2 separate regions of the Homo sapiens genome follow, and region 1 is linked to region 2. Evidence: fine-mapped QTL for protein levels in blood plasma. A gene starts in region 2. The other region holds a variant in brackets. All regions are shown on one strand. Distances are between the middles of the regions. Region 1 overlaps B4GALT5 (beta-1,4-galactosyltransferase 5). Region 2 holds the start of B4GALT5 (beta-1,4-galactosyltransferase 5).

Evidence for each region. A credible set is the group of variants that fine-mapping cannot tell apart. PIP is the chance, under the fine-mapping model, that this variant and not a neighbour inherited with it causes the effect. Protein levels are from the aptamer-based SomaScan assay of Sun 2018.
Region 1: its variant is the best candidate, but not a certain one, in a credible set for the plasma level of the B4GALT5 protein (Sun 2018, PIP 0.63).

Annotation. Positions count from the first base shown.
Region 1 is chr20:49,648,334-49,652,333 of GRCh38, forward strand. All of the region lies in intron 2 of B4GALT5 (beta-1,4-galactosyltransferase 5), which reads right to left. Among named protein-coding and RNA genes, the nearest start is that of B4GALT5, 64 kb to the right of the region's middle. The variant TAAA/T (reference allele first, on the strand shown) is at 2,123.
Region 2 is chr20:49,711,705-49,716,161 of GRCh38, forward strand. It overlaps B4GALT5 (beta-1,4-galactosyltransferase 5), which reads right to left and starts at 2,174. Exons shown (of 9, transcript NM_004776.4): 1 at 1,872-2,174. The coding sequence starts at 1,986. RefSeq lists silencers at 1,647-1,766, 2,057-2,386.

The sequences.
Region 1 (4,000 bases), 64 kb before region 2:
TTGAGGAGCCTCTGTTTTGCCATCTCTGGGGTTATTAAGTCTCCAGCTCTTGCCAGGATGGGGAAATGGGTCTGGGTATCTGACTGCTTTTTAACAGCTTTCAATCTCCCTTTATTTTAGTTGCCACCTTTGCTCCTACTTCCCATATTGCTAGTTCCTGAGCTTCTGGGGGATCCTGGGGTGGTTGCTGGTTCTCCTGTTGCTGCTTTGAGCAGTCAGTTTTCTTGGGTTTGTTAAGTCTTTTATCAGTGGTTCTTCTGCTTTCTACCTACCAAGGTTTTTTGCTGTGGTCTCCTTTTGTGTTCTCATTCTCAAGGGTTTATAATTTAAAAACCCTCACATATGTATGCCCCTTTAGAGTCACGTTAGTGGATATGAAGAGTGTGATGGCAGATGTCTTTTTCCTAGGGGACTGTACTTGTAGAGTAGGAGGAGGGTCCTCCAACCTCATTTTCTACAGATGAATAACTGGAACAACATACACAGAACTCAGACCAGGAGCCCTGGCTAATGCATGACAGAGCTCCAACTAAACTCTGAATGAGAGATCCTTCCAGTATACTGTATTGTTTTTATTTTTTTCACAGAATATTAAATCCTTTTGGATCCATGCTGATTCTATGAAAATTAAAACATCCTGTTCAAATTCACTTTGTACCCTAGAATTCTAGAATCTTCAACTAAGATATTTTTGAAAAAGCACTATGAGCAGGTTTCCAAGAATCAAATGGCTAACACATTGAATCCTTTTATATATGCACACGGCTGCCTACTCTGCGCTGCCTACTCTGCAAGTACTCTGGGGCAAAATTCAACGAGAGGCAACTTGAAAATTTTAACTGTGTCTTAACAAGGGAAGGAACAGAATGCTTTCTGTCCTTTTCAGTAGTAGCTTTCCTGAAAAACACTAAGCCTGCATTTATAGAGAATAGTAGAGACTAATTTATATAAAGACATAAACCAGGCTGGGTGGGGTGGCTCATGCCTATAATCCCAGCACTTTGGGAGACTGAGGCAAGAGGATTGCCTGAGCCCAGGAGGCCAAGACCAGCCCAGGAAACATGCTGAGAACCTGTCTCTACAAATAATTTTAAAAATTAGCCAGGCCTGGTGGTGCGCGCCTGTGGTCCCAGCTACTCGGGAGGCTGAGGCAGGAGGATCACCTGAGCCTGGGAGGTCGAGGTTCCGGTGGGCAATGATCACACCACTGTACTCCAGCCTGGGTGACAGAATGAGATCCTATCTTAAAAAAAAACAAAAACAAAAACATGAACCAAGACAGAACCTTAAAGATAATATTTACACAGAAATTCTCTGAGCTCAGCTCATACATGCAAACCTGGCCTGGGTTGAATCTTCTTCTGAAGGTAGTAACTACTTCAAAAATCTATGTGAAGAACCCCTCATCCTAATTATTACTCAGGATGAATCTAATAGATGAAATTATTCTCCTTTAGAAAAAAATTAAAAGACCTCACAAGTAATAGAAAATGTGCCTGTGTTTGTGATACGCCCATGTGTGGCAAGAGACGCTGGCTGGAAACATGTATTGGCACAGTCAATACATTCACTAGAAGGCAATGAAATTCCCAAAAGTATTACACTAAGTATATTTTCATAAACAAATCAACAAAAACGAAGATAATAATCATTCTGGTCAATGACTGACCCAAGCCCTAGAGCTAGAACCTAATCAGGAAACTAGAATTTAAAAAACATGAGGCAAGAGACAAGATATCACTAACTCTAATGATTCTACTATTTGGAGTTTCTTTGAAGATAGATAAATTCCTTTCTACTTCCTTCAAACAATGATACAGTAAGCCTGGTAGCACCTAGCATGAAACAAAAAAAAAGCATTTATTTTTCTTCTGATTACTAAATTAATAATATGTCACTGTTTTAAGAATCCTCAAATACGCAACAACTCTATTGCAAAAATCTTCCAGAAACTTACTCTACATCTTGGGAGGGGTGGCTTAATTTCCTGATTTCTTGTTTAAAAATTTTTAAATAAAACTTTAATTAAAATAAAGTCTACTTGGAAGGCCAAGGTGGGGTGCTCACTTGAGGTCAGGAGTTCGAGATCAGCCTGGCCAATATGGTGAAACCCCATCTCTGC[TAAA/T]AAAAAAAAAAAAAAAAAAAACACAAAAATTAGCCGGGCATGGTGGCAGGTACTTGTAATCTCAGCTACTCAGGAGGCTGAGGAAGGAGAATCGCTTGAACCCAGGAGGCAGAGGTTACAGTGAGCTGAGATCACACGGTTGCACTCCAGCCTGGGCAACAACAGCAAAACTCCATCATAAACAAACAAACAAACAAAGTCTGCTTTTCAGTAGCAATAGAGGCCTTTTAAAATGAAAGAGACAGAGGAAATTAATTGCTCACGACCTGGTAAAACTATGTGCAGTTATCGTGAGGAGCCCTTGTTTTTCTCCCCTGCTAGCTGTCCAGCAACGGGTGGGGTTATACCTTATCCCCTTGGAGTTCCAAATATAACTTCTTACTCTTCTAAAGCATGTACCTACTGAATGAGGAAAATGCTGAGAGAAAAACAAGCCTGTTGAATTTCTACAGCCACAGTTTTACTTTTTAATTTAAATCTAATCTATTTCAAACCTGGACATGTTCTTGAAGGGCAAAGAAGGCAGCTGCTTTTACATTTAGAAAATGGAAAAACAAGCCGGGCGCGGTGATCTCTGCATTTTGGGAGGCCAAGGCGGATGGATCACCCAAGGTCAGGAGTTCCAGACCAGCCTGACCAACATGGTGAAACTGTGTCTCTTACTAAAAATACAAAAAATTAGCCAGGCACGGTGGCATGCGCCTGTAGCTCCGGCTACTCAGGAGGCTGAGGCAGGAGAATTGCTTGAACTCAAAAGGTGGAGGCTGCAGTGAGCCGAGATCCCGCCACTGCACTCCAGCCCGGGCAACAGAGCGAGACTTTGTCTCAAAAAAGAAAATGGGAAAACAGGCCAGGCACAGTGGCTCACATCTGTAATCCCAGCACTTTGAGAGGCCAAGGCAGGTGGATCACCTGAGTTCAGGAGTTTGAGACCAGCCTGGCCAACATAGTGAAACCCTATCTCTACTAAAAATACAAAAATTAGCCAGGCATGGTGGTGGGTACCTGTAATCCCAGCTACTCAGGAGGCTGAGGTAGGAGAATCGCTTGAACCTGGGAGGCAGAGGTTGCAGCAAGCCAAGATCGTGCCACTGCACTCCGGCCTGGGCAACAGAGCGAGACTCCGTCTCAAAAAAAAAAAAGAAGATAGATAGATAGAAAATGGGAAAACAACAGACTCCTACCTACAGGTTCAAATGGCTACTGATATCATGGGCTTGCAGACCAACATTTCTGTCCAACAGCAACTGCTTATTCAGCATTGCTTCACACCAGTGGTTCAGCAGCCTTGGTTGCACATTGGAATCATCTAAGAAGCTTTCAAAAATCCTAACACCAGGCCGGGTGTGGTGGCTCATGCCTGTAATCCCAGCACTTTGGGAGGCCGAGGTGAGCAGATCACTTGAAGCCAGGAGTTTCAGACCAGCCTGGGCAACATGATGAAACCTCATCTCTACTAAAAATACAAAAATTAGCCGGGGGTGGTGGCACCCACCTGGTGTCCCAGCTACTCAGGAGGTTGAGGCAGGAGAATCACTTGAATCTAGGAGGCGGAGGTTGCAGTGAGCTGAGATGGTGCCACTGCAGTCCAGCCTGGGTGACAGAGCAAGACTGTCTCAAAACAAAAACAAACAAACAAAATTCTAACATTCAGGCTATACCTCAGGCCAATTAAATAAGAATCGCTAGCAGTCAGGCACAGACATCAGTACTTTGGAAACGTCCTTGGGAATTCCAATGTATAGCTAAGCTTGGTATTGCTACCCTAATACCTGGAGGAGGTAAAAACCTGCCTTCTCCCTTGTGTTACCAAATCCAGTTGAGAAGGAATCGAAAGTGCTGACCAATGGACCCCAGCAAGAATCACCACTTTCC
Region 2 (4,457 bases):
ATGCCTTCCTAGAGGAACACTTTTCGTGATGACACTTTGTAAACAAGGCAATCTGATGCTGCCTGTTCTATCTTCCCAGATCTAGTTGATAGTTCAAAACATCAACATTAACCACAAGTAAAATATGCTTAAAAAATAATCAGGAGACGATCTCCTGCTCTATCTGGAAATTTCTCTATTCAGCTAGTTCTGCGTTGACAGGTCAACAGAGAATGGCACTAGTTATTGCTACAATCCTAAAAGGCATTTCCCTACAGCTAAACCATCAACCCTTTCCTAAAATCCATATAATCCAAAATTTTTCTAGCAGAATTTACTCTCCCTGCCCCTACCCCAGCAGCATCTTCTGATCATTTTTCACCATAAACTGAGGTTTCCTCATAGTGATGCCAAGTCAGGCAAACACATTCCTTAAGCGTTCCACCTAACTCCCTTCTTCCTGGAAGTTACATGTAATAGCTGCCTTTATTTACTTATTTTTAAAACTCTTCAAGCACCAGGTACAGTGGTAAGTGCTTTTAAAGAACATGTATCTACTTCCATCCTTAACACTGTATGAGATTGGGACTCACATTCCCATTTTACAGAGGAGAAATGCAAAGGCTTAGTAACCTGCCCAAGGTCATACAGGGCAGAGATTGGAATCCAAGTCTGACCTCTGTGTCCTCCGCTCTTAACCTTCATGCTGTCTTTCCTTCTGATCTCTTCCTGTCCTAACTGGTGCCCTGTGGTCTTATAAAAGACTATGCTTGGGGCAGGCGGGGGAGGGGTGGGAGGGTCAGTTTCTCCAGAGACCGCCTTTCCTTTAAAGGATAAGACTTTGAAAAGAAGGAGTACCCATTACATCTTTCCTCCATGCTCCCCCTTCTCACCTGGTACCATTTCCCAAAGGCCCCAATCATATCCCCTTCTCTACGGACAATTTAAACTTCTCCTTTGTCCGCAGAGCAGGCACTATCCAATACTGAAGAACCACACCATCTACCCTCAAGGCTAGGAGAGGGCAGAAGTGGAAGAAAGAACACAGACAGCACCCCTTCCCCAGGTCTTCAGTTGAGAAAGAAGCTGTGGCTGAAAGTCTGGGGGGCTGGGGGCAAAGGTGACAAGGATGTGCCCTTGTGGGTACGCGAGGTGGGGGGGGGGGAGATGGGGAAGAGGCATGGGACGCTCAGGGGATTAGCAGGAGATTGAATGGGGGTGGACCTCTGTAAGGGGAAGGGGGGTGCCACCGGCAGGCAGAGAGATCAGGCCACTGAAGAGGTGAACGTGAGTTAGGGAGGAGGACCTGGAGGTGGATGTAATAGGGGAAGTAGAGGAAGAAAGGGGAGGGAGGGGGCTCACGGGAGCAGGAAACGATGGAGTCATGGGGAGTGGGGGAGGATGGATGGGAGCTAGAAGGTGGGGCGGCCTGGGACCCGGGCACATGGGCTCGGCGAAGAGCGGGCGCGCCGCGGGGGACTGGGGTGCGGGGAATGCCGGGAATGGGGGTTCGAGGAGACCCCGGGGAAGGGAAGGGGAAGCGGGAGTTCTCGAGCAGAGGAGCGGGAAGTGGGAGTTCCAGCGAGGCAAGAGCGGGAAGGGGGTTCCGGAGCAAGGGGCGGGCGTGAAGGTACAGTCGGGTTCGCGAGGGTGGCGTTAGGAGGGGCGGGGTGGGCCGGAGGCTGGCGCGGGAGAGGGATCCCGGGCGCCTGTTGGGGTGCGGAGGGCAGGAATGTCCTGGCGTCCCCGAGAGCCGGGCCAGGACTCCGGAGTCTTCGGAGGACCAGGCTCAGGGCCGCCTCCCGGCCGGGGCCCCTTAGGGAGGGGCGGGGATTCCCCGGGTCCCTCAAGGCCAGAGCGGCAGCCGCCGCGGTCCCAAGCCCCCTTCCTACCTATGCCGGGCGCCACATAGACGAAGTACAGCAGCGAGGACGAGAGAGAAAAGAAGAAGAGCGCGGCGAGCAGCGAGCGGCGCGGCAGCCGCAGCAGCCCCCGGCGGGCGCGCATGCTGCAGCCAGGCGGCCGCTAGAGAGCCAGGCCGGGCCTGCTCCCGCAGCTCCCCGTCCGCCGCCTCCTGGGCCGCCGCCGCCACCGCCTGGGCCTCGGCCACCGCCTCCCGGGCCTCGCGGGCCGCCACTCGCCGCCGCCGCCGCCTCGCCGCTCCCAGCCGCCGGCCGTCGCGGGCCGGGCCACATGAAGCGGGCGGGGGCCAGAGCGGCCCCGAGCGGGCGCAGCGGCGGGGGCGGAGGCGGGGCGCACGCGCGGGAGGCGGGGCCAGTGCCGCCGGGCACCGTCGCAAAAGACCCGCGCGCTTGCGCTCGCCGCCGACCCTCGCTCGGCGCCCACAGCAGCCCGCATGGAGTAATCGCCAAATGGCGACAGACCCTCTCCCAGTGCGGCCACCGCCCAGGCTTTCGGGGAATGTCTCCCAAGTGCTCCGCGCTAGCTCGTCCCCCATCTCGGGGGCCAAGGGGCCATCTACAAAGTCTGACTCATCTCGTTGCCCACTGCAGCAGAAGAGTGGGGACTGCAAGGCTTGGGGGTTCGGCCTGGTATACACCCTCATTCATTCATTCATTCATTCATTCAATTCACCATTTATTTATTGAATGCCAGACACAGTTGTTGGCGCTGGGCATGCTACAGAGAAAAAAAACGATAAAAATCTCTGTCTACTTGAAACTTACATTATGTGAGAGATAAAAGAAACAAATCAGCTAGTAATATCAGGTACTGGTAACACATATGAATACGATAAAACAGGAGGATGTATTGCAGGCAGGCTGGAGTGGTCAAGGAAGGCCTCACTGAGCAGTGACACGAACTGAGATATAAAAGGGTGAGAAAGCGCCAGCTTTTTTGAATAAGCTGGGGAAAAAGCAGTCATACCAGGGGGAACAGCAGGTGTAAAGGCCCTGAGGTAGGAAAAGGGCTGATCTGCCCCCGAGTTGAATCCAAGGCCAACATGGATAAAATCCAGTGAAGTAGGGGGGGAAATAGGGATGAGCTTGGAGCTGTAGTCAGGGATCCTACTGTATCAGAAATAGCATAATGATAACAATTGTCAATGTCTCTAGACTTCTGCTGAGAAACATGGACTTCACTCATGCCATGAAATTCCCCCACCAGTCTTGAGATGTGTGCTGTTATTATTACTATCATACAAATGAGGAAACTGAGGTTTCTAGATGGAAAGGCAATTCACCCAAGCCTTGCAGTAAGGGCTTAAATCAAAACTGGCCTGTCTCCCATGTCAGGCCCTTGACCTCTAGGTTGTAACTGTCTCAGCAGTCTGTATGACCTCTAATTCTTATCCTGCAGGCAAATCGGTATCCTATCCCCATCACCTGGGTATGGGACCATATCCAAAAAAATGCTTTCAGATCAGCATCAGCTCAAAGGACCTCAGAAGGCAATGAACAGTCCTAGAAATTTATGGCAAGAAGCAGTAGCCTCAAGGAGCTGGACTGAGGAGGCCAGTGTCCCTGTGTAGACATATCTGAAACTAGGGTACTGTCTTGGAATGCCAGAAGCAGTGGGGAGGGGAGAGGACTTTGCAGGGATTCTGTGAGAATCAACAATAATTCTGATTTATATTCCTAAAGTGATTTCTACTTTTTACAGTGTTTCTTTGATCCTTTAAGTGGGGAGTCTAGAGCCACACTGCCCAGGTTCTCTGACTCCCAGCTTTTCCATTGTTAGCTGTGTGACCTCACGCAAGTTAAACTCTCTGTGCCTCGGTAAAATGGAGGAGGTTATTAGCAACCTCATCAGGTTGTTGCGAGGATTTAAGTAATACATGCAAAGTGCACATAGTAAGAGTGCTTAGCTGTCACCTAATTCAATACCCCTGGAGAATGGTATGGTGGAAGAGAAGAGGCTTAAACGATCAAAAAGGAAAGCAGAGAATTTTGACTCAGATAGATGTGAGTTCAAATCTCGGCTTGGCATCTCCTGGCTGTGTGACTCTGGGAAAGTCACTTACCTCTCTGAGCTTCTCTATTCATCACCTGTGAATCGGACCCAGTGCTGCCCACCCCACGGGGATGTGATGTGGATTCGATGAAATAGTGCAGGTAAGGCCCTGGACCAGAAATCCCAGACTAGCCGGAATCATCTAACTTGCAAATAGTTTTTGTTGGCCCACACAATGGCCCCTCCCAACCCTCGTATCTATGAAACATTTTCAAACATACAGAAAAGTTGAAAGAATAGTACAAGAAACATCTGTACACTCCCCACCTGGATTTGATCATTGTTATCATTTTTCCACATGTATGTATCTATATTCATATGTTGAAAATTTTTATTTTTTGCTAAATATTTAAAGGTAGGCTGGGCGATTACACCTGTAATCCCAGCACTTTGGGAGGCAAAGGCAGATGGATCGCTTGAGCTCAGGAGTTTGAGATCAGTCTGGCCAACATGGCAAAACTCCATTTCCACAAAAAATACAAAAGAATTAGCTGGGCGTGATG